Homo sapiens: one gene and its partner. The protein of the gene in region 2 purifies or fractionates together with the protein of the main gene of each other region. This does not show direct contact. Each region holds a gene or a part of one and is shown on either strand. Other genes may lie near its edges.

Region 1 (3,500 bases), on a different chromosome or scaffold from region 2:
GAGATGGTTCCACTTGTGATTATTATCCTGGAACCAATATGGGTATAAATCAGGTATCATCTGCATACACCAAGTTCAACTACCTCTACAGAACTATGGGACAACAATTTAGAAAGCGAATTTTAAAAGTGAGTATAAAATGCTCTCGTTTTTTTTTTTTGAGACGGAGTTTCGCTCGTTGCTCAGGCTGGAGAACAATGGTGCGATCTCAGCTCACTGCAACCTCTGCCTCCCCGGTTCAAGCAATTCTCCTGCCTCAGCCTTCCCGAGTAGCTGGGATTATCGGCATGCACCACCACGCCCAGCTAATTTTGTATTTTTAGTAGAGGCAGGGTTTCACCATGTTGGTGAGGCTGGTCTCGAACTCCTGACCTCAGGTGATCCACCCACCTCGGCCTCCCAAAGTGCTGGGATTACAGGCATGGGTCACCATGCCCGGCCTGCCCTCACTTTTTAACCTGCACCTAGTAATGACAAGAAGATTCGATTTAGAAGTTTTACTTGTCATAAAACATCATTTTAATTCTAATAATAATAGCAACTAATACTTACATACTATATGCACCAGGCACCGCTCTAAGTATTTTAAATAAAATCCTTTAATATGACCCTATGAGGCTAATACTATTATCACTCCCCATTTTACAGATGGGAAACTGAGGTATAGTTTAAATAACTTGCTTATACTAATACAGTAATAATCCAATATAGAGGTCAGATTTGAACTCAGTTTCCAGAGCCCATGCTAACGTCTCTATGAAAAAATTAGACATTTATATTCTATGATAATGTTTCGTGCTTTAACTCTGCCCATAAAGAGAGTTTAGGAATCTGAATGGCACACAGTAGACACCAAATATTTCCTGAATGAAGATACTATCAGTTTAAAAATTTCCACTGTTATATATATACATACAAACAAACATGTTTTCCTCCCGGATATCCAATCCATAAAGACCTTAATGCTCAGATTACTTATTTTCCTTTGTGCCAAATATATATTAAGATATTTATGAAGCACCTACTAGATTCGTAACCCTCTTTCTTAAATGATGAAGCATTTCATACTTAGCTTTATAGAAGTCTTTATAAAATTTGACGCTAAAACAAGCATGAATTGTAAATAACTCAAGACAAACATACATACTAAACACCCACACATATCATATAATACCAGAGTTCACTATATCTTTATTCCTTCTAATTCAGTGGAGATGATTCCCTCCTTGTCTCGCCCCAGGGACATTTGACAATGTCTGAAGAACATTTTTGGTTGTCACAAGGGGAGCTTGGGAATATCACCCACAATTAAGAATCATCTGGTCCAAAATGTCAAGTTGACATTATCCAAGTCCCTAAATAAGGCAAGGTTGATTACCCAATCTATAGAGCAAGTTCCAACCTTTGAACGAAAACATCAAAGTTAAAATACAGTCTACCAAAACATCATTAACAATAATAGAAACCCATCTCCTGTACCCACTCTCCATGATCTACCTGACTGAAGAGGTTAACCCTCTTATTTAACTGCTTCAGCAGTTCTCTTCTTCATGAAGTTTCACTTTGGAAACTAAGAGTCTCAACTTTTACAAATACTCCCAAATAAAAGAAAATGACAGGTAATACAAAATTTATCCACTCATTATATAAACTTCAAATGCTGTTTATTCTCACTACATAGTCCCCTAAAGGTTGAGGGGGGGAAAAAGGCCCTTAAGTCCCTTGCTTTTTCCGTAAAATAAAATGATCCAAGTCAATTATAAAGTATCAATATATTACGAAAAAAATCCTCGAAGAATCTGCTCCTATGTGGTCCTATTCAGGATATGCACCACTTCCGCTTCCCTTCCCATTTATCTACTCTAGTCTTCAACGTCCAGCTCAAGGCCCACTTCAAATCCAGTCCACACCAACCTCACTCTTTTCTGACTCATACTCTGACATGGTAATGAAACTAAAAGCTCTTTAAGGAAAAGAAATGGGTTCATACTTAATCATTTCTGCATCTTCAGAATTAAAAACAACCAATAAGGAAGTGTTTTCTGGCTGTACCTTATAGCAGAAATATTTAACTCTCCCCATGGAAAGAAATGATTTAAAAATATAGTAAAATATTTTACCTCCTCTTCACTTTCTTTATCTTCATCATCTGAAGACTCTTCCTTGTTTTTCTTTTCATCTTCATCACTACTAGATTCATCTGACAGAATTTCAGGACATTTGGTTCGCTTAGCCTTCCTTGCCATTCCAGAACTGTTCCGTTCCTTTTTACTGCCTTTGCTACAAGTTTTTTTAGATTTCGGCAATGGCTGCATAAAAATTTATAAAGATAACACCAATGAGGTATAATATTTCAATCAATTCTCTTCTTGAAAACTTATCAACTCAATTTCTTATTCCTCTCTCAAGAAATTGTATTTACAAGCCCAGCAGCTTTGCAGAGAATAATCTTTAACCGTGTCAGGTTAACCTAAAACTGTGTTACTAATACCATTTGTGTTCTAAACACCTAGCAAGACCCTTCTCAATTGTAGAGAAATATGTATTCTAGGTTCTGACATGGGACTAGAAGCTCAAGACACATTATGTTAAGCTCCAACGGCTGTTAATACTTTGTCATGATAATATTTTAAGTTAGATTTGTAATTTATTTCATCCCTACAAGCATTAAAACTGTCACTGCCAACCCAGCACTTTGGGACGCCGAGGCGGGCAGATCATGAGGTCAGGAGATCGAGACCATCCTGGCTAACACGGTGAAACCCCGTCTCTACTAAAAATACAAAAAATTAGCCGGGCGTGGTGGCGGGCGCCTGTAGCCCCAGCTACTCGGGAGGCTGAGGCAGGAGAAAGGCGTGAACCCAGGAGGCAGAGTTTGCAGTGAGCCGAGATCGCGCCACTGCAGTCCAGCCTGGGCAACAGTGTGAGACTCCGTCTCAAAAAAACACAAAAAGCAAAAAACAAAAAACTGTCACTGCCAAAGAAGCTCCTTGCTTTAGAAGGCCCAACACTCCAATCGAAGGAATGGGAGAAAAACCTTTTTTTTTTTTTTTTTTTTTTTTTTTTGAGACAGAGTCTCATTCTGTTGTGCAGTAGCTGGGATTACAAGTATGCACCATCACGCCCAGCTAATTTTTGTATTTTTAGTAGAGACAGTGTTTCACCATGTTGGCCAGGCTGGTCTCAAACTCCTGACCTCAAGTGATCCACCCACCCTGGCCTCCCAAAGTCCTGGGATACAGGCATGAGCCACCACGCCTGGCCCATAAAAAAAATGTATAACTTTATTACCAATTATACATCCTGAATTTATGAATGAACTATACGGTTTATATTCATTACTTCTGGCCTCTACTTTCAACAATGTCAGGCTCATATTATCACTGATGCCTATAAGTATACAATAAATGATAAGTATGTTAATTATGAAACTAAGAATATGCTGCTATTATTCTGATAATCAATTAAACCATGTATATTAAAAGCAGAGATCACCTGAT
Region 2 (3,154 bases):
TGAGGCTTAGCTTTGGCAAGGTGATTTGCTGCACTCTAATAATCTATGGAGCAATGCAAAAGAAATACACGATTATCTTTTTTTTTGATGCAGCGAAGCAAAGTTTTACCTAGAAGTCAAGTCATGACCAAGAGGTTCATAAGACTAATAAAAATGGACAGGAGGTATTTGTACGCTGATATTTCTTCCATAGTACACTTGGAAACTTTTATAAACATATATATTTTCAGGTAAGCCTGTATGCTTGTTATATTTAGTATTTTGCATATGGCCCATTTCCCTCTCCCCTCGGTGGATACCTGCATTATTAATAGGTTATCAACATTAACATTTTCCAAAGCTTGCAGAATACCAATTTGTGAGGAGAAGGTCACCAAATTCTGCTATGATTTAGCCATACCAAAGTGATCACTCACAGTACCAGAAACTTTGTTTTTTCTCTACATGAAGCCAAGACAATTGCCCTCCAACACAGTGGGTCTTCAAGTACAAAGACTAAATTAAAATCTGCTTACAAAGTTTATTTTTAAAGTAATTTAAAACACAGTGTAACCATACATTAAAAATATTGTGGCAATTTAGATTAGGAATAAACATGAGGTTATTTACATGTTGGCATATGTATGTGTGTATATATACACAAAGTGCAGATAAATACAGAACACTACAAAATAAACAAAAAATTCAATGATAATTTATGGACAATCACTTTTATATTTATTACTTAATTTGTCATGTTAATGACTGCAAAGAAGCTCCTAGTACTGAAATATAATATCTTAACATCCGACTTTTATATAAACTACAGTACCTCAAATTTTAACAGTATATAAATAGGGTTCTGAATTAAAAACCCAGGTGTCTTCCCTGCCAAATTCCCTATTTGTTAAGGTTTCAGCTCAGAAATCAAGAAGGACTCTGAAAATCCCAACCTTTGATATGTGGTGGTATATTGGATTTTAAGCATCAATCATGTGCAGACAGTGTTCTTAGACCAGTTCCTGTGGGGATCGTTCTCTGCAAAAAGGAGGCAGTTGAGGGTACACGGGCAGATATAAAGCCTCAAAAATGCTGCCATATAGAGATTAAAAGTGTGCATTTTATATATATATATGTATATGCTGCCATATAGAGATTAAAGGTGTGCATTTTTATATAAAATGCATCTTTATATAAAATGCACATTTTTAATTTATAAGACTGAGTAAATTCAAGGCAAAATTGAGTTGTTGTCAACTCTGGATGCAAAAACACCATGGGAAACACTCATGAAAGATGGCAGATGGTCCAAAGGGGAGAAAGGGGTTATCCTACTGAGGAGGTTTTGACACCTTCAGCCCCTGCCTCCTCCAACACTTAAGTTTCCCAAATAGCCGTGTACACAGGCATCTTGAATGGTGGAGAATATTTATGATGGCAGTAAATGAAAATGGTCTCTGGTTTTTGGGACTCTTCAGTAAGCACACAGACTCCATTTCTCCATAGAGCACCAAGAAAAATCCACACTGAACTTGGCATCTCTCTCATGAGTGCCAAGGGGAAAAGGAATGATGGGCTGGGCCCCCTAAACCACAGACACCTTGTAATCATTGGTCTAGGACATGCAGATCAATTTTCTGCCAATGGCTTACTGTGAATGTTGTCAACATTCTTATGTAAGATTCTTTATTTAAAACAGTGAGGGCAGCTGCCCTCAAAAAATAAAAAATCCAATTTATTGATTTGATCCTCTAAAAGTCCACATCATTCATAAACCTGCATTTTCCCAACGTTATTACCAAGTGGAACTGGCACATTTTGAAGCAGGGGGATAACGGTGACAATGAGGGATACAGTGAATGTGTTCAGGAAATTGAGACCAGTTGATGAATACTCGATATTACATCTGCGAATCAACAGGAGACAGGCAGGACACAGAATGTTCAGAAAACTATCTTTGTTTCTTAAAAGTGTCTTGATTTTGGAAGGTAACAAAAAAGGGTAGGAGGCAAAGTTAAATAGCAATGTGTACCCTAAGGGGAAACCTTTAGTCAAGGGGAAAGTAACTTCTGGACAATAGTCAAGCCTGTGTTCTTTTTCGTGACCTGACCAGGAGATGTGATTTCCGGGTCCTACGCAGTGATGTGAGGTCATGCTAACAGCTGTGAGTTACAAATGTATCATAAAAGCAAAGAACAAAATCTGTTCCCTAAATTGGTCTGCCTCTGACTTTAGTCAAAGTATAAGTCTAGTTGGGGTTCTAAATGCTAAAGAAGGCATCCTGAATACATGATTTAAGGTATCACTACAATTTGAAATTGCTTGAGGCAAAGCTCTGAGGGACTCTTCTAAACTGAAACCACATGAATGATACCCTTTTCAACACAGACCAGAAGAACGGTGCTAGGAGTGAGAAGGTGAGCAGGGTACACTGGATGATAGTGAGAAATCTGTTTGCCTCACAACATAGTGAATTTTTATGAAGGATGCCACATTATATAAAGCTAATTATCATCGAATAATAATAAAAGTCATATGTATCTTTATTTTTCCTACTTGGAAACCTAGATAATTTGGGGTTTTAATACATTTTTTTTCCTTCACTATCTCTGAAAAGAGTCAGCAGACAAATCATTGTTGAGAAACCTGGTTGTGTTCATGCAAGTTACAAAGCACAGGGAACCCATGCAACAAGCAAAACCACTCACATCAAACAAGGAGAAACCCACTTCCTCATACTTCGTGAATGTTACAGGAATACACAGATGATTTTACTGTTCAGACATTTACACATAACACAACAGAAAAATCCTTCAGTTGACTAGTTTCCATAAACTTGGTAGCATTACGGCAAAACAAGAGAGTCATCTGTGAAACACACAAATGTTTTGTACTGAGGGATATTTTCACATAACTCAGGAGATAAGGAACTTAAATTTAGACCCCCTCAATCTCATCATCATACTGATTATACCGTAAGCAGTTATTAGGGTGCAGAGGTTGCGTGTTTTGAAGATATGGATGTGGCAATTCTAATGTATCTTCACATTGTTCCTGAAAAGCTAAGGTTTTGTTATTGAACTACTATTAAAAGTTGAATGTGATCCTCTTTCAATGTCTGGCATTGCCTTCCTGTGGAATTAACATTCTGTGTGATTTAGAGTACATGTCCTGA

The links. Proteins that work in one complex are often made in the same cells at the same time.
Region 1: the proteins of ARHGAP42 (region 2) and DEK purify together in Homo sapiens (affinity purification with mass spectrometry; one large-scale study listed by BioGRID and IntAct). This does not show direct contact.

Annotation. Positions count from the first base shown.
Region 1 is NC_000006.12:18,247,531-18,251,030, forward strand, and holds part of DEK (protein DEK), read right to left. Parts: intron 2,310-3,500; coding exon 2,121-2,309; intron 1-2,120. UniProt on the Homo sapiens protein: Involved in chromatin organization.
Region 2 is NC_000011.10:100,991,288-100,994,441, reverse strand, and holds the end of ARHGAP42 (rho GTPase-activating protein 42), read right to left. Parts: 3' UTR 501-3,154; downstream 1-500. UniProt on the Homo sapiens protein: May influence blood pressure by functioning as a GTPase-activating protein for RHOA in vascular smooth muscle.